Linked DNA regions of Homo sapiens: regions 1, 3 and 4 are each linked to region 2. Evidence: fine-mapped expression QTL. A gene starts in region 2. Each other region holds a variant in brackets. All regions are shown on one strand. Distances are between the middles of the regions.

Region 1 (7,903 bases), 55 kb after region 2:
GCAAGGTGGGGTGAGAAAGGCCAGGTGGTGACCTTTGTCCAACCATGGCTGGCAAGCGACAAAGAAAGGGGGCTCAAAACGTGGCCTCTGAAGTCTCGATCCCCCGCATTTCTGCTGCGCCTTGAGCCCCCTGTGCTTCATGGGGCTGGGCTCTCAACCGCAAAGCAGGTATTTTTTGACCACAGATGAATTTCTAAAATTTGGCAAAAGGATTTAAAAACTCTAGAAATAGTGTGTATTTAGATATCTGTTCCCCAGATAAATTTGAGTATGACTTTTTTTGATCATGGTCATTAGTAGATAAAACCGTATTTGTTTACAAGTAATATTAATTCTATAGGATTTAGTTCACGTTACAAAACCTGGTTGACCAATTACCAGCACTAACAGAACTAAATAGTAAGTTTGGAGAAAGAAACTGTGAACAGAAAGGCTATTCAGTAGGAGATGTTGCTTTTTAAGTCACAACAAAAAAATAATAAATATTGTCACCGGGCGTGGTGGCTCATGCCTATAATCCCAGCACTTTGGGAGACTGAGGCGGGTGGATCACCTGAGGTCAGGAGTTCGAGACCAGCCTGGCCAAGATGGCAAAACCCCAACTCTCTTTAAAAAAAAAAAAAATACAAAAATTAGCCAGGCATGGTGGCGGGTGCCTGTAATCACAGCTATTCAGGAGGCTGAGGCAGAAGAATCACTTGAACCTGGGAGGTGGAGGTTTCAGTGAGCTGAGATCACACCACTGCACTCCAGCCTGGGCAACAGAGTGAGACTCCATCTCAATAATAATAATAATAATAAATAAATATTGTCACTTATTTTTGCCAGTGCAAATCTAGAAAACATGAGATGAAGGATAATGTGTAGGACATAGCCAAAAAGAGCTTGAACGTGAAAGTGAGAGGTAACAACGTGCTAGCAGCCCTGGCTCGCTCTCGGCACCTCCTCAACCTGGCGGCGCTCCTCGATCTGGCCGCGCTCGAGGAGCCCTTCAGCCCGCTGCTGTGCTGTGGGGGCCCATCTCTGGGGCTGGCCGAGGCCGGAGCCGGCTCTCTCTGCTGGTGGGGAGGTGTGGAGGGAGCGGCGCGGGCGGGAGCTGGGGTTGCGAGTGGTGCTCACTGGCTGGCGCGGGTTCCAGGTGAGCGCGGCTCGGCAAGCCCCGCACTCAGCGCGGTTGGCCAGCGCCTGCTGGGCTTGATGGGGGACGAGCTCCCTCTGGGCTGCAGGAGTACCTGGACTAGGTGCCGCAAAGTCCCTCGGCAGTGCCAGTGAGAGGTGAAGCCAGCTGGGCTTCTGGGATGGGTGGGGACTTGGAGAATTTTTCTGTCTAGCTAAAGGATTGTAAACCCACCAGTCAGCACTCTGTGTCTAGCTAAAGGTTTGTAAACGCACCAATCAGCACTCTGTGTCTAGCTAACGGTTTGTAAACGTGCCAATCAGCACTTGTTTAGCTAAAGGTATGTAAACGCACCAATCAGCACTCTGTGTCTAGCTAATCTGGTGGGGACTTGGAGAACTTTTGTGTCTAACTAAAGGATTGTAAACACACCAATCAGCACTCTGTGTCTAGCTAAAGGTTCGTAAACACACCAATCAGCACTCTGTCAAAACTGACCAATCAGCTCTCTGTAAAACGGACCAATCAGCTCTGTAAAATGGACCAATCAGCTCTCTGTAAAATGGACCAATCAGCAGGATGTGGGTGGGGCCAGATAAGGGAATAAAAGCAGGCCGCCCCAGCCAGGAGACCTACCTGCTCTGGTCCCCTTCCACGTTGTGGAAGGTTTGTTTTTTTGCTCTTTGTAGTAAATCTTGCTGGTGCCCACTTTTTGGGTCTGTGCCGCTTTTGTGAACTGTAACATCTCCACGAAGGTTTGCAGCTTCACTCCTGAAGCCAGTGACAGCACGAGCCCGCCAGGAGGGACGAACAACTCTGGACGTGCCAACCTTATGAACTGTAACACTCACTGTGAAGGTTTGCAGCTTCATTCCTAAAGTCAGCGAGACCATGAACCCACCAGAAGGAAAAAATTCTGGACATATCTGAACATCTGAAGGAACAAGCTCCAGACATACCATCTTTAAGAACTGTAACACTCATCACTAGGGTCTGTGGCTTCATTCTTGAAGTCAGGGAGACCGAGAACCCACCAATTCTGGACACAAAAGGAGACTTGCTGAGGCCAGAGGCACAGTTCAAACTTCAGTCAGATGCAGAATCGGAAAAGTTTCAGCCTTGCTGCCCCTCTCCTCCCATTTTTGACTCTGGAAAGGCCTGTGAGGGACCTGTTTGGCGTATCGAGTGAGGACTGCTCTTTTTTAACAGCAGCCGCTTGTCTCTCCCATATCTTCTCACCCCTTCTGCTCTGAATCAGGCTTTGTTCCCTAGTGAAGCACAGAAAGCAGGGAAAATTGGAGAAGGTGGAAAGGGCAGAGAGGCAGCGCCAGAGCACAGATCTAGCCACAACGTGTCCACCCCACTGCGTTTAGAAAATGCAAGGAAGGATGTACCAAAACTGCAGGTTACAACACTGTATCTTAGAAATTTTCTGAGCTTAA[G/A]AAATAGATGCCATACCCCACGACAAAAAGAAGTGGGTTGCACAATGGACTTGTACCATTTCCTGATACAAATGATGCTTATTTCCCAAGAAAAATACGAGGCATAGCCAATGGCCTAGGATGCAAAATTATAAACCAACTCATTGCTCCACTGGAAACCACGCCCTTCTTCTAGATTCCGTCTTGACATAAGGTCCAAGTTTCTTATCTGCACCCTCCACACGGCATCTCCTACCCCTAATTCCTCTCTGACACCTGCAGCCACGGCTGACCAGTGTGACCAGTGCTGATCGGTGGCCCCAGGAAGGCTGAGCTCTCTCCCTGCAAGTTGCACCAGGATTCTGTGCCCCGAAGGGAAAACTGTTCCTGGTGATTCCCGTGTCCCAGTTCCTTCCTTTTGTGATTCCAGCTCACAGGACCAGGCCTCTCCCTGGATCTCCCCCTGCCCGCCCCCCCCCCCGCCCCCGCCCAAGATCTTGCTCTTGGTGGCCTGTCTCCCAGAGATGAAAAGTCCTGTCTTGACCCTTGTTTGACCCTTGTGGCCCAGGGCTGGGGCCTGACACCTGCAGCAGGTGCCTAGAATGTTAATGCCACCAACTTTTCCTGTCCTCTGCTGGGAATGCCTTGTCCACCAGCAGCTCCTGCCGAGATCCCTTGATCGGCTCCTTCTGTGAGTCTCGACACCACCCACCACCGCACTGTTCTCCCGCAGAGATGACAGACAGCTTAGGTTTAAGTCTTCTGATGCCCAGCAAGAATATACAAAGAAAACTGGCCTAACCAATGTATTAATAGTAAAATCTGGTTCATTCGTAAGTAGAGTTCTGAGGGTTTTGAGATGCTGCTGTTATGTTTAAGCTACAGGCAATTTACCCAAGGAATGTGATGTTGAAATATGTTTCAGAATAAACTTCCGCTTGAAAATTACAGGCAATAAAATGTACCAGCTTTCTCCTTTTCTTCTTCATTAATGAATTGAGGAACATAAAAGCTCAATTAAAAATAAAGACTCATGCGTCACTTAGTTGTTTTTAGTCCTTTCAATTTAATAAAACATTGGTATTGAGGTGTCGTAGGAAAATGGAAAGTCACTGCTCCGTGTCTGGCTCAGTATCCACGTTTGGCTTACATCATAAATCCAGAGCCATGGGGAGTGTCTTTTCCCTACTTCATCGGAGCCTAGAATGCCCACAGGTGGGGTCCGGTGTGGGCAGCACAGGGGAAGCATAGAGAGGGTGAGACAGCCCTGGGGAAAGGCAGGGGCAGGGAGCAAGCTCCGAGGGCAGGGCCAACATGTCAGGTTTACTGCTGAACTCCAGGGTCTAGAACAGAGTGAGAGGGAGGAGGGACTCCATAATTAGCTGTCGAATAAGTGGAATCCCAAGAAGAAAACTGGGTGGGAGTGTGGAGATAAACACTAGCAACAACGACACAAAGAAAGCAAGGATTGCTTCATAGCCGGGACAAGCTCATTCATCGGAAACCATGAAATGGAACCTGTCTCCCCACACCCAGCAAAATAACAGCCCTACTGCCTGTCCTCAGAGCGCCCTATGACCACCACCTACCTCAGTAAAGAGACAACCCATGCATTTGACCACATCCTAAGCCCTTTTTCCCCTTCTCTGTTTCTTCTCAAAGGCCAGGTGATCATGTGGGTTCCAGCTTTATAACCACATTCCTTAGACCCAAACCAATGAGTTGAAGGCATGAATGAAGTAGGTAAGTGAAGGCATGAATGAAGAAATGCAACGAGAAACTAGGGGAAGGCCTACCAGCTGATGGACGTCAGATGGGTCTCGCCGCTTGCCCTCGGTGAAGCCCAGCCTGAGACCACAGCTGGCAGCTGTGCTTCTGTGGGAGAAGATCCAAGCGCTGCTCAGGGGTCACAACATGCAACATGACTCTTTCTACAGGGCAGGGGCAAGCCCTTAACCATGGAAACACATGCATTTCCACGACAACTCATACCTACGTGTGCCTCTGTGTTGGAGAGTATTGCATATTGCAGATGTCCAAAAGTGCACAAAGTTTTAACTTTATCAATTACATGAAGTGATGCTCTCCTAACTCAGAGTTACATTTTGGCAAGAGCCAGAAATGTACCAATGTATTTCCAAGCAAGCAGTGAGTAAACAGGAAGCAAAGTGTTTGCTCCCCATGATCAATTATAATCTACAGACCACATTCCTTCCACTCTAGAGACCTAGAAATATGTTTTTAAAGTATCTCATTAGTTTAAATTATGATTTTAAATTACTTTATTAGTTACTTGTGTGGCCATTTAAATAAGTCAGATTTTACTGGGAATAAATCAATGATTCATCTAAGGACAATGTGTGACTCAAATATTTCCTTCCATTAATCAGTAAATGTTCCTTTTCCCAACGTGCTTCCCCGCCAAGGAAATCAATGTCTCTGGATAACTAGGTAGGCGCAAATATGTCAGAGCACATCAGACTGAGAACACAGAAGGGAAACACATCTGGAGCTTTTCGCATCCAGGGCCTCACTCCACCGCTGATACGCTGGTAGCTGAATCTCGTCCGACCACATGGTGGGTGAGGCTGGGACAGCCTGGAGATACAGGAGAGAGCAGCTAGCGAGAGGTCCTTGGGGTGTTCGGCAGCTGTGGTCCCTAAGGTTCCAGCCCCCAGGCAGGCCTACAACAGCCACGGCACCTCCCCTTCCCTTCTCAGGACCCAGAGCTCACCAGGCAGCAGCAAGGGGCTACCGTGCAGGAGTTCATCTTGGACCCTATCCCAGACACGCTCTTGTAGGAACCCAAGATAACTGGAGGAGTCTATAAGGAGGTGTTGTCATCTAGATGTAGCTGGGGACAGAGATCAGAAAACAGGGCCCAACCTCCCCAGTGAGGTAGGAGACGGGACTTGACTCTGGAGGCAGGGTTCAGATACTGGACCAAACTGAGACCCTGCTAACACAGGGACGGAGGTCAGGGGATGTACCCATCAGTGTGCCATGTCTGTTTACTATTGCCATGGCAACCCCCAGGCATTACCGCCCCTTTTCATAGCAATGACCCCACAACCCAAAAGTTACTGCCCTTTTCCTAGAAATTTCTGCATAAACTGCCCCTTAATCTACATGTAATTTAAAGTGCGTATAAATATGACTGCAGGCCTGCCCTGAGCTGCTACTTTCTGCCTAGCAGGTAACTCTGCTCTGCAGGAGCAGTCACAGAGCTGTAACACTGCTGCTTCAACACAGCTGTTTTCTTCCACCCTACCGTCTGCTTGCTCTTGAATTCTCTCCTGGGTGAAGCCAAGACCCTTTGAAGGCTAAGCCCCAATTTGAGGCTCACCTGTCCTGCATCACCAGGAAGACCAGAGACCAAAGGTGGGGTCTCACCGGGTGCAGTCATCCTCAAGCCTTCACCCTGCTCTCTGCCCTCCTCTGCTCTGCCCCAGAGGCCCCAGGAATCCGGCAGATGCCGTTGGATGTATCCACAGTGCAGCTCCATCCCCGAAAGCCTCACCTCCAGCCTACATCGCTTTTACCTCCCAACTTGAACATTTATCACCCTTCCCCCTGAACAACTTGATTTGTTTTCTAAGAAAAATTCTGAACCTACTTTTTAATAATTAAATGCCCTTTCTCCTTCTTTCCAATTTATAATAAGAGAATGTCTTACAAATCTGAAAAGCAACAAGAAACATTGTGCCAGAGGAGGAGCTAAAAGAGGCTATCCTTACTTGAGAGAGCGTGGTACTGGGAGCCACACTGCAGGGAGGCCCTTGCAGGAAGAGGGAGATGTCACTGCGGGATGGTAGCTCCAGAGCCCTGCAAGGGCCAACCGGCTTCCATGGAAGCACCCCAACCTCGAAGTCCCCATCCAGTGGGCGGAGCTCAGCACTACAAGGAAGCTCAGACATGACCCTGATGGAGTATGGGTGGGTGTGCAGGCTGCGGGGACAGAGGCCGAGGAAAGCTCAGGCAGGACCCTGATGGAGTGTGGAGTGTGTATGCAGGCTGGGAGGACAGAGGCCGAGGAAAGCTCAGGCAGGACCCTGATGGAGTGTGGGGTGTGTGTGCAGGCTGGAAGGACAGAGGCCGAGGAAAGCTCAGGCAGGACCCTGATGGAGTGTGGGGTGTGTGTGCAGGCTGGGAGGACAGAGGCTGAGAAGGGCAATGGTTAAAATGATCTGTTGGCCATTTCTATCACTGTCCATCCCACTTGTCCTCCCTCAGACACTCGGGACAAGAGTCCAAGGATCCCAGACCTCTGACTTTCTTTCTGCCCTAGTTTCATGGAGGTGAACTGATGGATTCATAGCCATGCATCTTTGAGAGTTGTTGGAGTACAGTTTCATTCCCTAGGATTAGGGAAGATCTTGGATTCAAATCCATAGACTCTTCCTGAGCTCCCACTGCATCCCAGCTTTTGAAAGAATTCCTCCCCGTGCACCACCACTCTTCACCCTCACGACAATTCTATGGGCATCACGTTTCTTATGGCAAAGAGCCTTGTAGGACTGAGGTTCAAGCTGGGTTCACACAGCCAGGTACTTGGTGCCCTTTCTCCCACCACATCTCCTACCACCTCCTTGCTGCCTTGCTCCCCGGCTAAGCTGGGTCTGTGCCTCTATCTCCATGGTATCTACATCACTGCTTTTAACTCCTACCATCGAGTGATCCCGCAGACAATGCACCATGGTGATGGACGATGGGCCCATGCCCTAGGAGGGAGGGGGACAGAGGGCGAACGAAGGGGCTGAGACGAAGGAGCTGTGAGGTCTTTACATTCACAGCCTCAGGTCTTAGGGCTAATGAGAACGAATGACTGGGATAAGCCAGGTGCCTTTCCAGACACCTACGGAAGGATCGAGAATCTTATTTGGCAGTGACACCAGTTCTACCCCACAGAGATGGGAAGAGATCAGGACAGCATTGACCTAAGGGCCATCCTATGCTCATGTAAGGTCGGTCCTGCTGAGTCCTGCCGCCAGGAACAGGAGTCAGGGTGCATATCGGGCACCAGGCATGAGGATTTGTCACTGGGAACAAGGATGTGTGGAGACCGTGCAAAGCAACCCGACCTCTCCTACTGTGGGACCCTCTGGCCCAGGGTTATCTCCATGTCACCTGGTGGGCTCCTGAGCAACTTTTCTGCTTTTTTGTATGCAGGGAGGTGAAATGACCCAGAACAAGCCCTGAAATCCAAGCAGGTTGGTGTGAACTTCTGAAACCTCTGATGCCAAACCAGCACCTCCCAGATACTCTGGAGCCAGCACACATGCTCTGCACCCAAGGCCATGTGGCTTCTGCTGACAGGCCCCAGCCCATCAGTGCATCTGATCCTGCAGCCCATGTGGCTTAGCTT
Region 2 (5,000 bases):
TCCTTGGAAAGCTTTTAACAAGACTCTCAAACTCTCAGGGTTTCTTCCCCTTAGCAATAGAATGAGGAAAGTTACATATGCTACCCCGATTTTCACAAGTATCAAATAATAGAAAGCTGGGGAATGCATTTGTAAAAAAGAGAGCATTGTATTAGCATTGACCTTTTTTTTTTTGAGACAAGTCTCGCTCTCTCGCCAGGCTGGAGTGCAGTGGCGCAATCTCGGCTCACTGCAACCTCTGACTCCCTGGTTCAAGCGATTCTCCTGCCTCAGCCTCCTGAGCAGCTGGGATTACAGGCACGCGCCACCATGCCCAGCTAATTTTTGTATATTTAGTAGAGATGGGGTTTCTCCATGTTGGCCAGAATGGTCTCGATCTCCTGACCTCATAATCCGCCCGCCTTAGGCTCCCAAAGGGCTGGCATTACAGGCATGAGCCACTGCGCCCGGCCATTATTGACCATCTTAGTGAGACCTCCAGCACCTAGTACGGGATCTGGCACACAGGAAGCACTAATTGACTACTTGCTCTTAGACTACATGTATTTTCAGCCCATTTGACCTCCTACATCGCTGATGGTTTATGTATGACTTCTAGAAATTTTATTTCTACATGGAAGAAACCTCGTTTCCTATTCCCACCACCCCCCCACCCCCCCCCCCGCTTGTTTCCCACTGTATTCTTTCCGGAGGCACGCCTGCAGCCCAGCCCTCCTTGCAGAACCCTGTGACACCAGAGGCGTGTGTATCCAGAATCAGGCAGATTCCTGAACTCCCACTGGTCAGCCAGTGTCTAGTGCTGCTCTTCATAAACAATGCCTGGAGTGTGCTCACACGTGTACCTCTTCTTGGCAAAGACAGTAAATGGAAGGAGACAAGGAGTTGTCTAATAAACTTGGCATTGAGATGAAACAGGAAACAAAGACATGTATCCGGATAAAGATAAATACTGTTCTGAGTTTCTGATCTTGTCAACTTCAGATTTTTTAAGTGCCTGTGTCCCAGGAAAATGATTTGCCTCACTGGTGTGCTTCATTTCTTTCAATATTAGACTTAAAAGCAAGCCCTCCTCCAGTACTGGATTAACAGTTTTGTTTGAAAGATGTGTTTTACCCTCGGGAACCGGCCATACTGATCCTATCTAGTACTTCCAATTCTGATTTAGGGATGCCATAAGAGAAACTTTTTAAACAAGTAATTCTCTTCTACTTTTTTGTCTATTCCTCAGGTCTCTCAATGGTTACAGAACCCATGTCTGTGTCTAATATCATGGCAGCTGGGACAAAGAAAACCAAGATGAAACATTTGAGATTGTTCCAGCTGAAACAAACCAACCAAAACCCCACAGGTGCCAGCCTTGAGGCAAAGGCGGGACAGTGTCAGGCGAAATCTTTGGGTCCCAGCCTCAGTCTCCCCATCACCATGTCTTTTTCACTTAAACACGTTTCACTGTTTTGTCATCTATAGATTCAACAATGTGATTTGGACACTGGGAATAAGAGAATAAGATTTGATGGTTGAAATAAAACACACCACGAGAGAACCGTCCACAAGGAAACTCTAAGATGCCAAGATGCGGGACAGGTAGAAAGGACAGGGCTTTGGGAGTACTCTGGGTTTTCAGGACGAATCTGTATCAGCCTCGGCGCTGCGAGGATATTGCATCAGGCTCTTTACTCCTGAACGCCGTTTTAGACGCCTAAGCAGATTGTGCTGCTGCCTGTTCTTCCCCGTTCTGTGAATTCTACACTGACTTCAAGTGCACGAATGAGCTACAAGATAAGGTGGAACCTGCCGGCCGGGCACGGCAGACAGCACCTGATCAGCGCCTCGGAGGGCGGAGCTGGGGGGCTTCTCCACTCGGGACTTTGAGGGACCCCCGCGGAGCGCTCCGCGCCACTCGGCGGTCTAGCTGCAGAGAAAGCCCCTCCTCACCCGGGGCTCCCTGTGGCCCACAGGGGACCATCCCACACCCCGTGCAGCCAGCGGCGGAGAAACCAGCTGGAAATGCAGTGGGGGTGGAGTTGCCCCCGCGAGGACCCACGGACCGCCCAATTACTACGGAGTCCCAGCGATAACGTTTGGAGCCGTTTGGTTCGATTTTCGGAACCGGACCAGCTTTCCAGTAACTTGAACTCCCTGACGGGTCTCGGGGTCCACCCAGGGGTGGCGAGGCGGGCTCGGGCGACCACGGCCCGCTCAGTGCCCGGCACCTGCGCGCCCCGAGGGCGGCCGCATTACCTCGAGCCGGCTCAGGCTGGAGCTCTTGGAGCGCGACTTCCTGCGCAGGTACACAGAGAAGAACCTGCGCACGGCGAACTTCTTCATGCTCAGGTCCATCGCCCCGCGCCCAGCCCGGAGCAGCCGCAGGGCCGGGGGACGCGCATCCCCGGCATCCCAGGCGCGGGGCTCAGGTCCGCGGGCGGGCACGCGTGGCCAGGGAGCCCGGCACGGCGGCCATGGGCGCGGGGCGTGGGGCGCGAGCTGCGGTCACAAAGGGCAGGCCGCGCCGGCCACCGCGGCCGGGGCCACAATCGCTCCCTCCGCCTCCTTCTCCGCCTCCCCTGCGAGTACCAGCGCCGGCCACGCGCCACGCCTACACCACGCCCACCACCACTACCACCAATCAGCGCCCGCCGCTCCGCGCCCCGGCACGCACACCTCCTCCTCCTCCGCCCCGCCCCGCCACTACGGCCAATCAGCGCTCACCACCCCTCCCGTTCCCACCCACCACCAGCACTGCCAATGAGAGCCCACCGCCCCGCCCGGGAGAGCCCCGCCTCTGCCGATACCTCCAATCATCAGCGCCGCCCTGTGGTTCCAGGTGCCCATCCCTCCTCCTCTTTCTACTCCTTCCTACAAGAACCAGCTCCGTGCAGCCCCGCCCCCACGCGGTTCCGCCCACGGCCCCGCCCACAGCACTGCCCGCCAATCAGTGCCCGCAGCCGCCGCATACCTAATGAGCCTCGGCCCGGGACAGCTCCCGGCCCGGGCGAGTTGTGCAGCTGCTCCGGAGCCGCGCAGTCGCGGGCGTTCCTGTCACGCAACTTCGGCCCGGCTGCTCTTTCTTCCAGCTTGGGGCCGTCATTATGTTTTCCTTCCTTAAAACATCCCTATGCACACTTTGTCATCATGTTTTTCTCTGCCGAACCAAACTTTAATTGTTGATCAGCAAACGCAGCCAAAACCTCAGCGGCACAGCGAGCGAGGGACCGCCGCCTGCCAGCGGGCCCTGCAGCTCGGCCAGGAGCCGCCCTCCGCGGAACCGGCGCCTTCCCTCCGCCGGAGCGGACAAAGGCGCCCGAGGGCGGGGGCTCAGGCAGCCCTCGGGGCGCCTCCCTCCCGCGGCTGCAGAACAAAGACGCATCCGCCCTCCGCAGCCGGTCCCGCTCTAGGAAACGTCTACACAGATGGCTTATCAGGGCCCGCGCTGGGAATACCCGGGCGGGGTGACCTGGGTCTAGGGCAAGGCCCTCAGACCCGCTGCTGGCGGCAGCGCCGCTCGGGATCCGCCTTAAAGGGAAACACTTTTTTCTTTTTTTTCCTAGAAATGCTCACCAAGGGCTGCAGCAGGGCCGAGAATGCGGGCTCACGACCCCGTGCAGCCTGCTCTGTTTTCCTCTTGTGCACGTGTTGAGTTTGTATTTAAAAACAGGGAGAAACCGAGCCCATTGACATAGCACCATCACCACCTGCAAAGAGCAGAAACGAGTGCGGTGGTGAGTTGACAAGTCTTGCTTGCTCTTTTGCAGTGCGAACTGCAAAATCCTCGCGTTGTTTTGCTCCCTGGACTAGTCAGATGTTGCGTTAATACTTGTGTAGTCTATTTTGGCTAAGGTGGGTAGAGAGGTCAGAATGTCCTTAAATAAGAGCTTTAAAGTCATGCTGCATCCGGGCTGAGGTGAGGTCAGATAGGCTCTCTGGGTTTCCTGGAGACCCGCGTTGAGCGGTGCTGCTCCGGAGTGGAAGCCGGGAGTTTAGCACCACGACTCTGGCGCTGCCCCTTCCTTGCTTGGTGAACTTGGGTGCCGTTGCACGTTGTTCCCACGACTCATCTCTAAGAGGAAAATACGAGTGAAACCTGTCTCACCTCCCTTACTGGATACCAAGAGGCTTATGCAAGATCACGGATGTGGGAGTGCTTTGTGAATTTAAATAGTGCAATTGATTTTCATATTATGTATTAAAGGATCTATAATGACTATTCTTTAAAAACAGAAGTGCAGGACCCCACAAGGACACCAAACACCACTTTTTGCTCCTTTTCAAGATGGTGTGCCAGTTAAGTGCCCATGAAAACTGCTTTGCCTGCTTCCTTTAAGGTTCTGCTGGGAGGGTAGTAATCTGTGCTCTCAGAACCAGCCTCTTAGTGCCCTGTATCCCTGCTGGGACCCTCAGGCATCCTGGCTCTAGGCAAACACAAAGACACTCTGTACCCAGCACGGGAAGAGGTAGATGGACCTCCAACTGGACACAGACTCCGGGAATGAGGGAGGACCAACCCGACCATGCTTCCCTCGGAAGGGGAGCCAGTAATACTGGCCGGAGACAGGAGTGCTGAATGCCACCTATACCAACTCATGGGCATCCTGTTCAGGACAAAAGCCCCAAGGCAGGCAGGCCTAAGTCAAGGCTTGTGTTGTACCAACAATAGTATTTTGACCTGATCTGACAAAATTGGAAAGGAAATATTTCATGGGACATTCATTAGTTCCCCAAATTTGAAGGCAACAAAACTGTTCTGTTGAACTTGGGAGGGAAAATCATTCAGATTTCACTGGAATTCATTGCTAGAACAATAAATCTGTTTGCCTTTGTTTTTCTCCTGGTAAAATACACGTATACCAAAATCTCTAGTGATCATGGAACACTACTTCATGTGATTATGTAATGAAATCCTCCAAAACCACTAAATCTAGGGTAGGTATAATATCAAGACCCACTGTAACCGAAATCCAAATTATCCTTACCAAATACCAGAAAAGAAAGTGAACTTGATA
Region 3 (8,144 bases), 85 kb before region 2:
AGCCTTCCTGGCTCCTGTGCCCAATCCAGAGGAATGGATTCTTTTCTTTTCTTTATTCTTTTTTTCCTTGTTCTCTTATTTTTTTCTTTCTTTGGGGAAAACAGCTGCTAGAATGCACTTTCAAAGATACATTGGCTCAGGTCAATAACCTTCCTCACCTTGGTGATGATTTACCAAGAGCCAAGGGAGGCTCTAGAGAGAAGGCAAAAGTGCATGTGACGGCTCCAACGGCATTTTGTTCTCACCTGGCACAGCCCAGCCCTGTGCCACTGGAATTCTGGCTGTGCAAAGTGAGACCCCGGTTCTGAACTGTCCAGGTTCCCGTGATCGCAGCCCTGCAGGTGAGGACCGCCTGCAATTTTCATCCAGGGGGGCTCTGTCCAGGTGTCCTTTGTGTTCAGGAATGAGACTCAAGAGACAGCCAGGGCTGAACTTACCTTTCCATAGGATCCTTGTCCTAAAACCTTCAGCAGCTCAAACTGGGAAGGATCTGCCTTCTCAAAGCCCTCCTTCACATGATGGCTGATGTCTATCTCCTTCACGACGCCTTCTTCCTGCAAGAGAGCGGCACGGGTGAGAAACACACCGCGAGGAGTCCCTCAGAGCCGCTCACAGCTTCCTCCTCCCCTGAGTTTACCACGAGCTGGGTCTGTTACAGATTTTAGCGCTGGAGTTTGAAAGTGGAGACACCATTTAGTTGTGTTTTTTTCTTTTTTTTTTCTTAAGACGGAGTCTCACTCTGTCTCCCAGGCTGGAGTGCAGTGGCTGGATCTCGGCTCACTGCAACCTCCACCTCCCAGGTTCAAGTGATTCTCTTGCCTCAGCCTCCTGCCACCATGCCCACCTAATTTTTGTATTTTTGTATTTTTAATAGAGACGAGATTTCACCATGTTGGCCAGGATGGTCTCGATCTCCTGACCTCGCGATCCACCTGCCTCGGCCTCCCAAAGTGCTGGGGTTACAGGCGTGAGCCACCCCGCCCGGCCCATTTAGTTTTATGGAATCAACTTGGTGATGTGTGTGGTTATTGTGTGCACCCTGTGGGCCTTCATGGTTTCTTTTCTCCATGGACTTTTGTCATTTGGTCTTACCAAGGCCTCCGAAAAATCTAAGGGTACTCTCAATGAAATCCATTCTGCTCTTTAACAGTCTGGGCAGAAGTTCTGGTACGATGAATATAGCAACTATGGAACAAAATGACAGCAAAAGCATATTGACGGGTTCCTAGATGGAGAAGTGGTCTGGAAAATGCAGACGGCTTGTCCTCCTTCTCCTTCTGATTCACGCTATCCCTGGTATGTTTGTCAAAGCTAATGTAAAGAACACGTCATTGCCATCCTATAGATTATATTTCAGAAGAAGCAGTCAGGTAAGATTTGCCACCAGCCCAGAAAGCAAGATTTCCCTGTAGGAGAAAGAGTCTATAAGTGAAAACACTGACAGAAAACACTACAAATTTTCATCCCAGAGCTTCCTGTCCCCAGAGTCACATGACTTCCCTTGTAAAGGGGTAGGCCATCTGCCCAAGTGCCAGGCCCTGGAAATGGAACACTGGAAAGGAGGTGTTTCTCCCAACATGAGACATTCGAGCCCAACTGTTCCTTGAATTTATCTCTGCATTTCTCTGAGATTTCTGTTCCACTATCTATACATTCGTACACCCCTTTCTACAGTTTTAGCTCGGGGTGAGGGGCTGAAAAACTTCAGAAACTGCTGGCTAAAATGCGCATCCAAAAACAGCAACCAGGAATTGTATGCATAGTGTGCTCTGGGAACCAGGGGCCTCTCATTCCTCATTGCTTCTTTTCATGAAGAAACTGTGAAGTGGAGATTTTCTCCTGAGACTCAGATTACACATTAATAGCTGGAAGTGATAGAGGTGGGCTTCTCATCAAGGACTGACTTCGAAGCCAAGTACTTCCACCCTCTGTTTTACTCTAAGAGTGAAGACTTCCAAATGAAATCACAATAGCAATAACGTACATGACGATGTTTGAAAAATTCAGTTTCTCAAAACGGTTACTTATAAATCTTGCTATTTTACCTCCATGTCACAAATAGAGGCACATGTAAAAGCAGATAAGGTGTCTGAGCCGTGGAAACTCACAGCGGATTAGAGGCCTATGCAGTTATCCATGGCTTTTCCATTCTCAGTTAAAGGAAACACTTTCGTCTCCATATCTTCAAGGATGATTTGCTATTTTTGTAAAAACAGTGGTTTTTTTTTGTTTGTTTGGGAAAACAATGAGTATAGCCAAAATTGACTCTGTTTAATCCATCCTGAAGTTCATATGAGTGCAGTTGGAAGATACAGAATTACAATTTTGTTGCTTCATAATTACTTCTTGAATGAGTAAGTAAAAATGCTAGAGGCACAGCCCAGCCAATGGGCATTATATTTAGATGCTAATTTGTGAGGGGACATCACATTTTAAGCCCTTCCTCCCTTCACAGCACAGGCTTACTAGAATTGCAGGACCATGCTAGCCACCCGAGACTGTGCAGCTTTTGTGGTGAAATCTCCTGGTTTATGGAAAGGGACAGAAAAAAATGAGGCCCTCAGGGATCCACGTGTGTCACTGCCTGTGAGAACCACTACCTTCCACGCGGCTGCTGGAGGTGGCTTCCTGCACAAAAAACAAAGGCAGGAGCCCAAGTTCAAAAAAATTCATCATGGAAACATGTATGCTATCTTTTCCCGTCATTGACCTACGAAAGGAAGAAAGAAATTGCAGACGATTTGTCATTTAAAGAACAACAAAATACTCCTCTTCTGTTACTAAAACACTGTCCTCGCAATGGGTCCATTAACATCCTCTACCTACAGGACTAGCACGCGCATGAGTCATCCAAACCCCAGCCTCCCTCCCAAAATAGCTCCCATCATGCAGCTGTGTTAATGCGACGCCCACACTATGAAAAAAGGAATCACCACCAAAGCACACCCTTCTGTGACTTCATTTTGGTAACGAGAGCATGGCAACGGCCACACTGCAGAACAGAAAGTAAAATTCAACACCGCCCAGAGGTGTGGGGCAGGCGAGGCACGAGCTGGCCAGGGAGGCTTCACACTGCAGCCACCACCCTTTCCTGGGGCACGTTTCCCAGCCCTTGTGTATGTTTCCTAAAGATTTCCAGTTCCTTCCTTTTTCTTCAGCAGCTCTTTGTGGAGGGTCTGAGACCCACAGCTGTGGTGAATGAGCTCATGCAGTCCCATGGGTCCTGGTCCCCTTCACTGCCTTTGTGGGACATGCCTTTGTGGGACTAGGCTCTGAAGCGAGAGTGACAGCATCCGGGCTACTTGGATGCCACCTGGCCATGGACGCTGGCACCTCAGAATTCCCATGGGTGTTCCCCTGCTCCCAGTCAGCCCGTTTTTTAGGCTGGCTTCACGCCTTCCTCAGCACTTCCAAATTGCCATCCCCTGTTGCCTCCCGCCTCCCCGGTCCATGCCACACCCCCACCTCCGTTGCAGAAGTTCACCTTCTTTAGTCATTTCTGTAACGTTTCGAATCAAAGCCTTCGACGCAGATATCTCATAACATTTCAAATTTTGTGCAGATTCTTTCTGTCAAAGTATTGAGAGCAAATGTACCTGAAGTACACACATAATTTCATCTCCTAAAATGACATGAAAAACGCCAGCTTTCTTCCCTAATAATATTGCGATAGAGTTCACTTCTCATTTCAAATCAGTAAGGTTTTTAACCGCAAAGCATCTGAGGCGTCAATGGAAAAAAATCCCCAAGAGCATCACCTTTCAGACTTCAGAGTTCTGCCTTCACAGTGACATTTTAGCTTGAACTTGCTGGAGGATGCTTAACTTTCTTTTTCACTTTCCCCAAAACGAAAACAAAACAAAAC[A/G]AACAAAGATCTGGTGTTCCATGGACTCGGCGCGCACTCTGGGGTCTGTGTGAATAGGAAACAGCCAGATGAAGCCCCAGCACCATACTCCCGGGCACTGCTGATAACGACCCTCTCTGGACAGCCCTGGTTTCTGGATCCCTTCATGACAACCACCCTAAGGGGCAACTAGCATGAAAATGTTACTCACATTTCATTTTGAAATATGTGCCTTTTCTGTTTTATGAAGCAGGTAATTTTATCTAGAGCTTGATGAGGATTTGCATGCAATGCCTTAGGAAGATCAAGTCTGTTCCTGAATCGGCTGCATCCATGGCAGGAGCATGTGGTTTCCAGCACAGCTACTGTAAACAGTATTTTTAAAGCTAACTTGAGAGCTTTGGGAGGAGGAGCTGGGACGGTGATCAGGTGCTAGCTCCATAAGCAACAATTCCAAACATTTTGTAACGTAAGAAAGAAAAACTAGAGGTATAAACTGTTTAAATGATGTTTGAATGTGACAAATTGTGACAAGGAATTTTTAAAATTCCTGCAGAACTGCACTCAAAATTCCAATGACTGCAGGAAGTCCCGGGCAGGTATTTCAGCAGCTGCTGGGAGCGGCTGGGAAGTGGGAGTGACAGGGAGAAAGATGAGGGCGGTTGGCCACTGGCTCTGCATGCCTCTCTCTGGGCCAAAGTCGCCTTCTTAGGTCATTTCCTCTGCTCTGAATCACCTGCTCTTCATGTCATTAAAGGGATAATATTTATAAAAAGTGCAAATTAAAAGTTGTGGAATATTAATGATAAGGACATAGGAAACAAAATAGGCAAGGGTTCACCTCATTTCCAAAAAAGGAGAGAGGTCATTCTATAAATCGCAGATTCACATGTAGGATATTAATTTCCAGAATAATAACAGAATATATTATTACACAGGTGGTTTATGAAAATGTGGAAAAGAACGTATCTCCAACTCACAGGTCCCATCAAGCCAGCACTGTTCTGCTGCTGACGGCATGAACTCATGAGCAGGTGGACAAGAGCCTGGCTTTGAGGGCAGCTTTGGTGGAGTCCCTCCTGAATCCCAGGTGACAAAGAGGCTGGCATCATATAAACGCTTAATGACAGAGTACCACATCGCAAGTCATTCTCTCAAGGCACAGAACCCGGACACACCTGCCCAGGAACAGTATCGTGTCCTGGAGGTTCTGAACGTATGAATGTTCTATGTTGCCCACCTGCTTCAGAATCACCCCAAGGAACTTGTTAAAATGCAGATTCCAGGCCCTGGGCAAGGCCTTCTTGGTCTGGAATCTCTAAACTTGGCTTCGTCTAGAATCTGACTTTCATTATCTCACCAAAGGTGCCCTTCTCAAGCCATCCAAATCTTACCCATTGCTAAATCGAGTGGCTAAATTTCCATCCTCCATAGCACTGGGCATGGCTATTCACTCCCTCTCACTTGAAACACTCTCTTCACCTGGATTCCAGTACATCCTACTCCCCTGGGTTCGCTCCCACCTCCCCCTCTTTCTGTGTCTGCCAAGGTCACCTTTCCCCTGGGCACAGTCCCTGGCCTTTTGTCTCCATGTAGTTACCCCCTTGGAACCTCGTCCTGTCTCCGGGCTTTATAAACCATGTGAATAAACACTGACAACTCTCAAATCTCAATCTCCAGCAGGGGCTGCTCCCAGAGGTCCAGTTCTAGAGGCCCATCCATCACAGGCAACTGTCCTGAGTGTGTGCACGTGTGTGTGCGCATGTGTACATGTGGAATGCACATACGTGAGTGTGTGTGAGACAGGTCTTGTTCTGGCTTTTTCTCACATTGGGATGGAGCTCCTTAAAGTCCCAGCTTTATGCAGGAAGTGGGGCAAGAGGTCTGCCTGGGGCCAGCCCTGGGATTTGTCACCAGTTCCCCTGCCCTGTGAGGCTGTAAACAGCCAAGCTCAAATTCACCAGGTTGTCACCTGGCCTCCAGGAGAAAGCTGGCTTTAACTGTCTCCTTCCTTGGGTTCCCTGCTCTAACACAGGGTTTGGCCTCTGCGTATTCCTTACTCCCCAGCTCACTCACACTTTTAAACATTCTTAAAGGGATACTTGATCCAGGACTTTCGGTTGTATTTCACATGAGGGCTAGCCACATGTAGTCTACCACGCCGCTAGAATGGAAGCTCAGGAATGCTTTTAAAGGGAGAGAAGATTCACTAAATGGCTTTTTAGCCTCTTCCGGAAAAGAAAGACAGCCGCAGACTTGCTGAGAAGAGTAGAGGGGAGTCTGTGCAGGAACAGCCCCCGGAGAGCGAGCTCCATCTGCGGCACGACTCCTGATAGCTCGTGGGTCCTCGGCCTTTGGTTACCAGGAAAGCTGGCTGCACCAGTGAACACATGCCACCCATGACAAAAATCCTCCAGTAGGCCGTTTTTGTAATTACTAAAACGAAATAAAAATAACTAGACATTTGAACCAAAGACTCTTAAGAACCAGAAGGAACCTCCCATGTAGCAGGTTGGGCATCTTACTATTCAAGGGACGAGAATTCAGATCATCTGAGGCCCAGGACCCATGCTCCTGGCAAAGCTGCTTCCATTCCAACCAGGGCCTAGGACGTTTAGAGTGGTAACGGCTCGCGAACTCTGGGGCCTTCTCTGCCCTTTAAACTGCCCTTTCTGCATCTCCGCAAATGTGTCTGCTTTTGCTGGTGTGAGCAAATGTGAAATGAAATGATGGGACCAGCTGCATTTGTCCAATCAATTCCTTAGGAAACCATTTCTACAACAAGTTTCCCTTCCATTTCTAAAAAGCTAAATATAAGTGAGCCATTTAGTACAGCAGAACGAGTACCCTCAAGAATGGAAATCAGGCTGGTGACATGGGCGCTTGCTGGAATCTAGGTGAAACAAAGATGGCTTAATTTAAGATGAATAAATCTGCTACAAAATCATAGGAGGAAGGGAAGCAGGAGAAGGAAAGAGAAAGGAAAATACCGGGTGCCATGTCAAGATCGCAGATAGAAGCTCTGAAATTTCAGGAGTGTGAGCCTATCTACTTGATAGAGGGCTGCTCAGCGAGACAAGGTCTCCATTTCAACCCTGGTCATTTTCAGAGTTTGAACTGCATCTATTCGATACAATGCTCAAATGGATGCCGCAGAATCCGCGGAGGGAAAGCAATGTGCAGGAACAGGGCTGGGCTCTGTTTTCTCATCCATCCTAGAATATCACTTTTTCTTTTTCTGACCAATGAAAGTGATTTAGCTTCCAAGAGTGGTCACTGCAGTCACCGCATGCACAGTGACAATCTAGGAGTGGGCTGGCTGCTCGGGCTCCTTTCCTCTTTGGGGAGAAGTCTCCGTTAAGCTACTCACTGAAGCTCCTCGGAACTGAGGCTGGGCTAATGTAAGGTTCCTAGAACACAGCAGCACTGAGTGGACAGAGACTATGGGAAGAAAGGAGGAGAAGCAGCAAAACCAGCCTTGGCATTTCTCTCCTTTTTTTTCTCTTTCTATCCAAACTTGCCTTTCTGCCTCCCCACCCCGTCCCTGTTCATTTTAGTGACTGAGGAGAGAGGAACCTCCCAAGGATGTTTCCTCTCTGGTTTTAATTAAGCCCTGCCACTTCGCCACTGTTTCTGCCTTCGCCTTCATTGCCTGTTGTTCCCGTGGATTATTTTCTCTTCCCTTCTTCTCAGCCCTCAGTCTGCTGGTATTTTTATAAATCACAGTCAAGGCAAATTGGACTCTGAAAGTTGTGCTTATAAACGGTGACTGACAGATGGAGCGCCGCCACTTTTGCAGGGGCCTCCTTCCCACAGAAAAGACGTGCAAAGAGTGGAGAGCCAGGGCTTCCTGCACACACATGGGCTCCCAGTCCTGACATCGGCCATTCTGTCGGTGTGCTCATTCTGATAAATCCTCCAATCCTTAACCTCCCTGGGAAACGTCAGTGTGAAGTCCTCACGGAAGCCTGGGGTGTTGGTGTCTGACACGGTGTTTTAGGTATGGCTCCGTGACCCCTTCCACTTCATCTTGAAAATTATCTTCAATGATTTGCTTTATAAAGACTCATTACTAGCATCGGGGAATGAGACGGTAGCTACTGACTGACATGAGTGTATTAAGATGCACAGGAACGATCTCCGAGAAGCCTCACACTCGGGGCAGGTGGAACACGAATGCAGATTAGGTCAAGCCACAGTGTTTCCTCGTGGAACAGCTTTAGATGGGACCATTTCCGGTCTGGGCAGTGGGATGAGTGCCCAAAGGGGCTGAATACATCTGTATTATTTAGCACAACTT
Region 4 (8,144 bases), 240 kb after region 2:
GAGAGCTCCACGGAAGAACACCAGCCAGCCATCAGCACCGGCTGCCATGCAGCAGACACGGGAGAGCTCCACGGAAGAACACCAGCCAGCCATCAGCACCAGCTGCCATGCAGCAGACACGCAAAGTGAACTGCTGTCATTATTACTATTTCTAGTTTCATCTTCTCACCTAGTAGCCAGGAGATAATCATCTCTATCCAAGCTTGACTATGAATCTTCAGGGAATCATGTTTGATCTGCATTGTTTAAAAACGGAGCTTTCTCTTTCTCTATCTAATGTATTATGACATCCCAGAGAGAAAAATCATGCTTATTCCTCCAAGAGAACACAAATAAAATGGGTCAGCCAGACCTTGTGGGCTGGCTTATGGACTTGCCTTACTCATCATTTCTCCCATTTTCTTATCTTGCCCCCAAAGCACGCCCTTGGCTGCTGTAACCCCGCTGAAAGCAATGATTGAAAAGTCCTGTGTTTGAGATGTGCCTTCAACTTGCCAGAACATAATTCATGAAATACTACATGTTTCTTTTTCATGCTAGATTCTGCCGGGGTTTTCTGGAGGTTCTGGCTCTTAATGAGCACGTTGCCTTGTCAACACACCCATTTATGGGTTAATTATATATCTGAAATATCTCAGAACAACACAGAGAACCACAAAGACTTTCCCTGGACAGTCAGATGAATCTCCCCTGGTCTACAATTTTTATAAACTGTATTTAGTGTTCTCTAGTACAATGGACCTCAGACCCAGTTCAGTTCGGTTCTCTCAGACTACAGATGAGAAAACAGGCCAGAAAGGATAGCAGCTTGAAAAGGTGGTTAGAGCAAAACATGAATCCAGGAATGCTGATTCTAGTCCCTGGAAATCCAATCATCAGTCCTGTCACATTTGCATAACAGCAAGGAACTAAAGCAATAAAATCTAAACTAAATCACTAAAAAATAAGCACTAAAATCTCTTAGCAGATTTTCCGATGAGAAAAGCATGCAGGCTCCTCCTGCAAGGGTTTTAGGGCATTTAACTTGGAGTTCAGAGGCCAGATATGCTCCATATAGCTCTGCCACATTTCTTGATATGTGAGTTATTTTAATACCATGCAACATAAAACATGGACAAAACTAGAGAGGAAATTCAGACTGTGAATTCCAAAACACAGAGGATTTTGTGGATTTGGAAATTTCCTCAGAAACTTGAAGTACCTCATGGTTAATATTTAAGCTTTCATTTTTCTATAGAAAGAACTCTGGTTTTCTGGGTTCCAAGTAAATAGGAATTTAACACTGTCCATACTCCACCAGCTGTGCTCTCCTGAAAAAATTCAGCTAAGAAGCCTGAAAAAAATTTATTTTGCTTCAAGAGCTATTTAATGTATCCAATTTTCCTCAAAACCTTTACCATCTGCCCTCTCCTGGGGCTGGCAAGGCAGGGCAGACCATCAGTCAACTCGGCTCCAAATTCTTGCCACTTGCAAGTGCTTTCTAGGCTCATGGCATGGTTTTCAAATCATGGGAATCTATTCATTGCTGATCCATTTATGAGCGATTTGAGAAATATGTGAAACACAAGCTGCTCCTCATGGCTTTGGTCACTGGAAATAATGTAAAGACCAGGGTCCCACCTGGAATTGTAAAGCCCCTGGCCCCCTCTCTCCCATCCTTTCTGAGCCCAGGGCGGAATCCTCCCTCTGGACAAGCCCTTCATTCGTGAGGGCTGAGCACCTTACAGCTTCAGCACAAGCCAATGTGCTGACGATGACCAGCTGGGCTATAGGAAGCACTAGTAAATGAGAAAAGAACTTCTAGCTGATCACTTGCTCGTTCACTAATTCAATATTTAGAAAAATTGAATCTCTCTCTCTCTCAAAAAAAGTAGACTTGAAATGGCAACCGCAGTAAGGGAATGGATCTTTCCAAGGCACCATCCTCAACACCAAGAACAACCCCATGTACAAACAGAAGAATCAGTAACAGTAGGGAGCCCTGGTGTCATCCTTCTCCCACCCCAGGTACTTTCCATGAGCAGCAGTATCTGGGCTGTTCCATCTAAAACAAATGGACTTCAATGTCCGTGCTATGCCCAACAGTCTCTGCTAAACATCAATACATATGTCGAGCATTATTTAGCTTGGCTTTCCAAGAAAACTATTCAATATGAAGCATTCAGTAAATTCTCTTCTAAAACAGAATCTCTCATTCAGTTCAAAGGTATGTTATGTGACTATCTCAAGACGTACATATAAGAATAAATAAAATTTAAAATAGCATTGAATTTATAAGTACAGTGCTGGGAGTAGGAGATAGGCAAAAATTAAATTGGACTTTGAGGAGGTTTGGTGAGTGATTACAAATGAGCCATGTTTAAATGCCATTTGAGTTGCTATAAACACAGAACAGGTATATCTAATAATTTAGTAGACGTTAATAAATTTGGGGAACTTTCTCTTCTAGGAAAATGTATGTTGACCATCTCCAATTCAAATGGAGCAAATCAGATTCCGTGGAGCAGAGGTTTGCGTGTCCCCAGGGAAGCATGGAGTGAAAAACTCTCAGCAGTGATTCCTGCACACCCACCAGCCCTGGGACGGGCAAGGAACACTTTGATTTCATTATCTTTTCTGTTTATCTTTAATCACACCTCTTTATCTGACCATTCATCCTTTTAAGGTTGCATTATCTTTTTTCGTTTAAGATCACATTATCTTTATGCTCTCTGTTCCTTGATTCATCATTGATTTTTGCCTTCTGGTTTCATCTTTCACTGTAGCAAATGGAAGGCTTCTAATTTAAAGCCACTTGTTGAAGGAAAATCAAACTGATGCAGATTAGTTTGGAAACGGGAATACTTTAAGACTTACATAGACTTTAAGAAGCATCCTGAAGTTTCCTTAAGGGCAACAATTTGTTTCTTGTACTCATTATCATTTATGTATTTACACCACACACAATGCCGTGCGTGTATACACACGCAATGTTTATCCATGTGCATACACAACGCAACATATACATCCACACACACTGGATAGCCAACTCTCTGACCCATCATAGTCACCTAATGGACATGAACTGATTATAGTAAATGAGCAATGCATTGGCTGCAGAGTTCGGATTCTTGAGGATGCTGTGAAAAGTGCGTTCTCTCCTGCACTCACCTCTATTTCCATAGGCTCCACCTCGATCTTTTTCCATAGTTCCAGCAACTGTGCGATTGGCATTTTTAAACTTTCCTTTTCTGCTGGTCGAGTATTGATAGTAGGAAAGGAAATAAACAGAGGCTCGGACCGGCACAGGGGGACGGCCAGACGGGATGTCGGAAGCCAAGGGACGCAGAGGCCGGCGGGTGGCGGCGATGGAGAGGACAGATCCGGCTCCCAGAGGAGGTCGTGAGCGCGGGGCCTGCGCCGGCCGGAGGAGGGACCCGGGGGGCTGCAATATGGCTGCTCGGGCGCCGTCCCCTCCCTGCCAAGCCAGGGCTCTGGGGAGCTGCTGCCGCTTCCCGCTCGGGCTGGGGCGAGGAAAGGAGGGGACGGCGCTGCGGCTTCGGAATCTGTACTGCGACTTTGGCAGAGTAAACGCTGCACTTGCAGCTTCGAATTG[A/G]ATTTCCTGCCTCTCCCCCCTCCCTTCCCTGGCCACGCTCTTCCCTCCTCCCCTCACTATTTTACCTTAATTGGCTCTAAACGAGGGTGAAAGTTGAGTCTGAGGATGCCGCTGCCATAGAAACTGCATAGCAACCAAGGGCTGGGGAGGCGGGGGGGGGGGGCGGCAGGTCTTTCCCCCCCACCCCCAGCACGCGCACACCCTTCCCCACCTCCCCAGCCCGCCGCGCCTCCCCGGAGACCCACACCGCCACCTCCCGCCGCAGAACGGGAGGGACAGGAACACGGACGGAGGGACCGGGACGAGGGGAGGGCTCCACGCAGCACAGCTGCTTTCCTGCGGAGCGTTCAGGAGACTCGGGCACCTCTGGAAGCGCTGCGGACTGAGCTGCCCGCGGCTGCCCCCGCCCCGAGGGCCGGGACAGCACCTCAGGAGAAGAGGGACGAAGAGGGACGACAGACAAATAGCTGGGGAGAGGCGGGGGGGGGCGGCCCGTGGGGTCCGCTGGGCCCTACCCAGCCCTGCCCGGAGCTGCCCGAAACAGCACTCAGGCCTCTGCGGGCCAGGATGAAAGGCACGTGGGCCGCTGGGGCTCCCAGTGGCAGGGCCCGAGGGACAGAAACATTAATTCAAACAACGTGTATCCTGCCCCTCAGCTCCTTCAGGTCTCCACCCCGTCCTATTTCACAGGTGACAAAGTCCTGAGGCTCAGAGAAGGAACCCCCGAAGACACAGCCAGGCGCCTGCGGGAGAGCAAGGCCTCCTGGGCCACCGCTCCTTGGAAAGGAACCAGGGGAAAATTCCCCTCCCTGTTTCCCTTTTTTGGGTTGTGGAGTGGGGGGATCTCTCTTGCCTCCCTCCTTACTCCCTTCTGTCCTGGATAATGAAAGGTGCGTGCGGGTGAAAGACATATTCATTTCTCCAATCGTCCAAGTGCTAATCCTGAAGCATTATGGTTCCCTCTTTTAGGAAAGGGTGTTAAAGTTAACACAATTTAATGCTGCTTTGGGAGTAAGTGTATTCATTTCTATAGCAAATTCCTTTATCTTTGAGAGAAATATCTTTTTAAAAATAGCTTAATGTTCTCCAAAATTATCAATCCCTTTTTCTTTTTCGACTTTATGCAATCACTAAGAAATTCAATTCACTGGAAAAAAAGAAAAACCCAAATCCCAGATACTTTGTATCTCATAGCAAAGTAGAGTCCAAAGTTAACAGAGGGGTTCTGTACTTGGTGTTGATTTATGACAGTCACTTTATCTTTCTACAAAATTAGGCCAGAAGGACCTTTAAAATCAATTGCATTCAGAATTTTAAAAATAGCAATATTGTTCGTTTTCAAATTGGAGATTCTGTGATTGACAGAGCAGAGTGAAGGTTTTCTTGTGTTAACAATCATAAGGTGATTTTGTACATGCTGTAAAAGGTCACAGATTAAAAACAGACAAAGCCAGGGTGGTGGCTCATGCCTGTAATCCCAGCACTTTGGGAGGCCAAGGCGGGCGGATCACCTGAGGCGGGAGTTCGAGACCAGCCTGGCCAACACGGTGAAACCCCGTCTCTACTAAAAATACAAACTTAGCCGGGCGTGGTATCGCATGCCTGTAACCCCAGCTACTAGGGACGCTGAGGCAGGGGAATTGCTTTAACCCAGGGGGCGGAAGTTGCAGTGAGCGGAGATCACGCCACTGCACTCCAGCCTGGGCAACAGCGCGAGACTCTGTCTCAAAAAAAAAAAAATGGTTTTTGGTTTTTCTGTAAAAAAGCTAGGAGAGTCACTCATAAAAGACAGTGAAGAGATGTCAAGAATCTTTAATCTGATGGTAAAAATGTGGACTCCTGAAGGCAATGGGAAAGAAATGAACTCAGATTCTTTACTGTGTATTTACAAAGACTCCAGCTTCTGGAAGTTTCCACAAGTGCTCTGTTGTGGAAGAAGGAAATAGAGGTCCTTTATATGAGGGAGGAAAAGTCCTTTGGACGGGCTGTCTTGTGATTGGCAGTGTGTCCTAGGAAACTTGAGGGAAGCCCAGCTCCTGGGAGGCCATGGGTGAACAGCCTGCCAGAGTCCCTAGCAAAAAAGAGCTCATTTTAAGGGGTATCTTAGGAATTGCTGAAAATGTGGCTCATAATTTAGCATGGTGTTTTTTTTAACTATGCAAATATGACACTAATCAACAGACTGCACATTATTTGGGCATCTCACAGGCAAGCAGAGAGCCTGGAGAGATGAAGCGATCACCAGGGAGTGAGACGAGAGTTCATGTGGCCAGGGCTCTGGGCTGGAATTCCCACACTTACTCCCTGCACTGCTGCCTTGTAAAACACCTACGGGGTCCTCCCAAAGCAGAAACCTCCCGGATGGGTTCCTTTCCATCAGCTTTTTACATGCAAGGCACTCCCAGGGCTGCTGCCCACCAAGATGCAGTACCAGGTGTGCCAGACACTGGGGAAGGGGACCTGGAAACAGCCAGAAAATAAAACAAAATAAAATGCAACAAACTGAAATCTTCAAAAGGTGATATTGATCTGGGAAAACAGCCCCACTTATAAAGTTTGTGTTGGGAAAGGTAAACAATTAGAGGTAAGAAGGAATAATTTTTCTGAAAGGAAATAATGATTACATTTAAATACCTACGAAGATAAAGATTCAAATAAAGAACCCAGGAAATTAGATGCGTTGGAATTAAAATGTTCAAATAAATCCCAAGAAAACTTGAACAATCTTTTTCTTTCTTTCTTTTTTTTGAGACAGGGTGTCACTTTGTCACCCAGACTGTAGTGTAGTGGCACGATCTCAGCTTACTGCCTTCTCGACTTCCTGGGCTCAAGAGATCCACCCTAGCCTCCCAAGTAGCTAGGACCACAGGCGCATACCACCACACCACTCATTTTTGTGTGTGCGTGTGTTTTCTGTAGAGACAGGGTTTTGCCATGTTGCCCCGGCTGGTCTCAAACTCTTGAACTCAGGCAATCTGCCGGCTTCGGCCTCCCAGAGTGCTGGGATTACAGGCTTGAGTCATTCGGCCCGGCCTGAACAACACTTTCAACAGAACACCACCTGAAAAAGCTATTTCTGAGATATTCACCTCCAAAGCATCAATTTCTAAGAAGAACTGTTGAAGCAGCCTTGCTGAAAATGGGTCCTTAATGAACCAAACTCTGCAAAAGAAAAGCAATGGGAAGTATTTTAAGTGTCCCAAGTCACAGCCATTGTGAGATGAGATGGATGAGCTGGCATGAAACTCACTGAGACCCAGCCCCAAGTGAAAATTACTCTCTTGCTCCAACGAAGGAAGAGCACTCCTCTGTGTTCATTGCCTCTTCAATCTTAAAGTGTCTCTTTTCTCTTAGGAAGGAAAGACGGATGGAGAAGGGGAGGGAAGGAGGGATGGAGAGAGCTTATCCATTCCACGGATTTCTGACAACCAAAGAAAAGCTGAATCAGGAATCTGGTCCTGGTCCCACTTCTGCTACTAATAGCTATCTTCTGTAGCTCAGTTTCCCCACAGAGGGGGCTGCCACGGCCTGACTCACAGAATACACAGCAACGAAATGTGTTTCGTGATCTGAGAGAAAAGGCCCAAAGAAATCCAAGTTTTCTGATGGACAGACGTGCTTGACCTCCACACTGAATCCGACGGACATTTTTAAAAGACCCAAATGTTTTATTCTGGGCTGTTCCGTTTTGCAATATTGTACATTTTGAGATGGATGAAAGATTTAGTAAAAATGAAAACAGTGTCCAGATGCAGTGGCTCACACCTGTAATCTCAGCACTTTGGAAGGCCGAGGCAGTAGGATCACTTAAGCCCAGGAGTTTGAAACCAGCCTTGGCAACACAGTGAGACCCTGTCCCTACTAAGAATAAAATTTTTTTAAAATAGCCAGGCATGGTGGCACATGCCTGTAGTCCCAACTACTCGGGAGGCTGAGATGGGAGGATGGTTTGAGGCTGCAGTGAGCCATGATTGTGCCATTGTGCCACTGCTATCCAGCCTGGGTGACAGAGCAAGACTCTGTCTCAAAAAAAAACAACAGTTACTAATTTCCAGTGACATGGTCACCAGCTTTGGTATTTTCACTCTCCGGAGTTTCACAAAATTCTCCAAAAAACTTAAAACCAAATTTATTTAAATTTTAACAAAAATGCATGTGACCCATTGTCACGGGCTGGGCCATGTCCCTCTACCTCCCAGATTCCTGTGTGGAGGCCCTAACTCCCACTACCTCCAAATGTGACCTTCCATGGAAGCAGGGTCCCTGCAGAAGTAGCTGGTTAAGGTGAGGTCATGCTGGAGTGGAGTGGGCTTTATGTGATCTCATAAAATGGGGAGATTTGAACACAGACATGCACACAGCAGAACAGCACTGGGACGCTGGAGCTCTGCTGCCACGAGCTGAGGAACTGGGAGCTCTCCCAGAAGCTGAGAAAGAGCCCGCACAGACCCCTTCCGGACACCTTCAGGGGGCGTGCGACCCTGCTCACACCTTGACCTCAGACTTTGGGCCTTCAGAACTGGGAGGCAATCATATTCTGTTGTTTTGG

The links.
Region 1: its variant is fine-mapped to the expression of RPS6KA2 in whole blood (GTEx, PIP above 0.99).
Region 3: its variant is fine-mapped to the expression of RPS6KA2 in whole blood (TOPMed, PIP 0.96).
Region 4: its variant is fine-mapped to the expression of RPS6KA2 in whole blood (TOPMed, PIP above 0.99). The same link has a PIP of 0.9 or more in T cells and follicular helper T cells.

The regions. Positions count from the first base shown.
Region 1 is chr6:166,678,683-166,686,585 of GRCh38, forward strand. It overlaps a transcript of RPS6KA2 not described here. Among named protein-coding and RNA genes, the nearest start is that of RPS6KA2, 55 kb to the left of the region's middle. The variant G/A (reference allele first, on the strand shown) is at 2,560.
Region 2 is chr6:166,624,680-166,629,679 of GRCh38, forward strand. It overlaps RPS6KA2 (ribosomal protein S6 kinase A2), which reads right to left and starts at 2,572. Exons shown (of 21, transcript NM_021135.6): 1 at 2,242-2,572. The coding sequence starts at 2,340. RefSeq lists silencers at 2,442-2,791, 2,852-3,021, 3,272-3,331.
Region 3 is chr6:166,538,231-166,546,374 of GRCh38, forward strand. It overlaps RPS6KA2 (ribosomal protein S6 kinase A2), which reads right to left. Exons shown (of 21, transcript NM_021135.6): 2 at 438-554. Among named protein-coding and RNA genes, the nearest start is that of MIR1913, 33 kb to the left of the region's middle. RefSeq lists enhancers at 3,000-3,119, 3,710-3,929, 4,100-4,700, 5,048-5,968. The variant A/G (reference allele first, on the strand shown) is at 3,866.
Region 4 is chr6:166,858,958-166,867,101 of GRCh38, forward strand. It overlaps a transcript of RPS6KA2 not described here. Among named protein-coding and RNA genes, the nearest start is that of RPS6KA2-AS1, 41 kb to the right of the region's middle. RefSeq lists a silencer at 3,876-4,185. The variant A/G (reference allele first, on the strand shown) is at 3,596.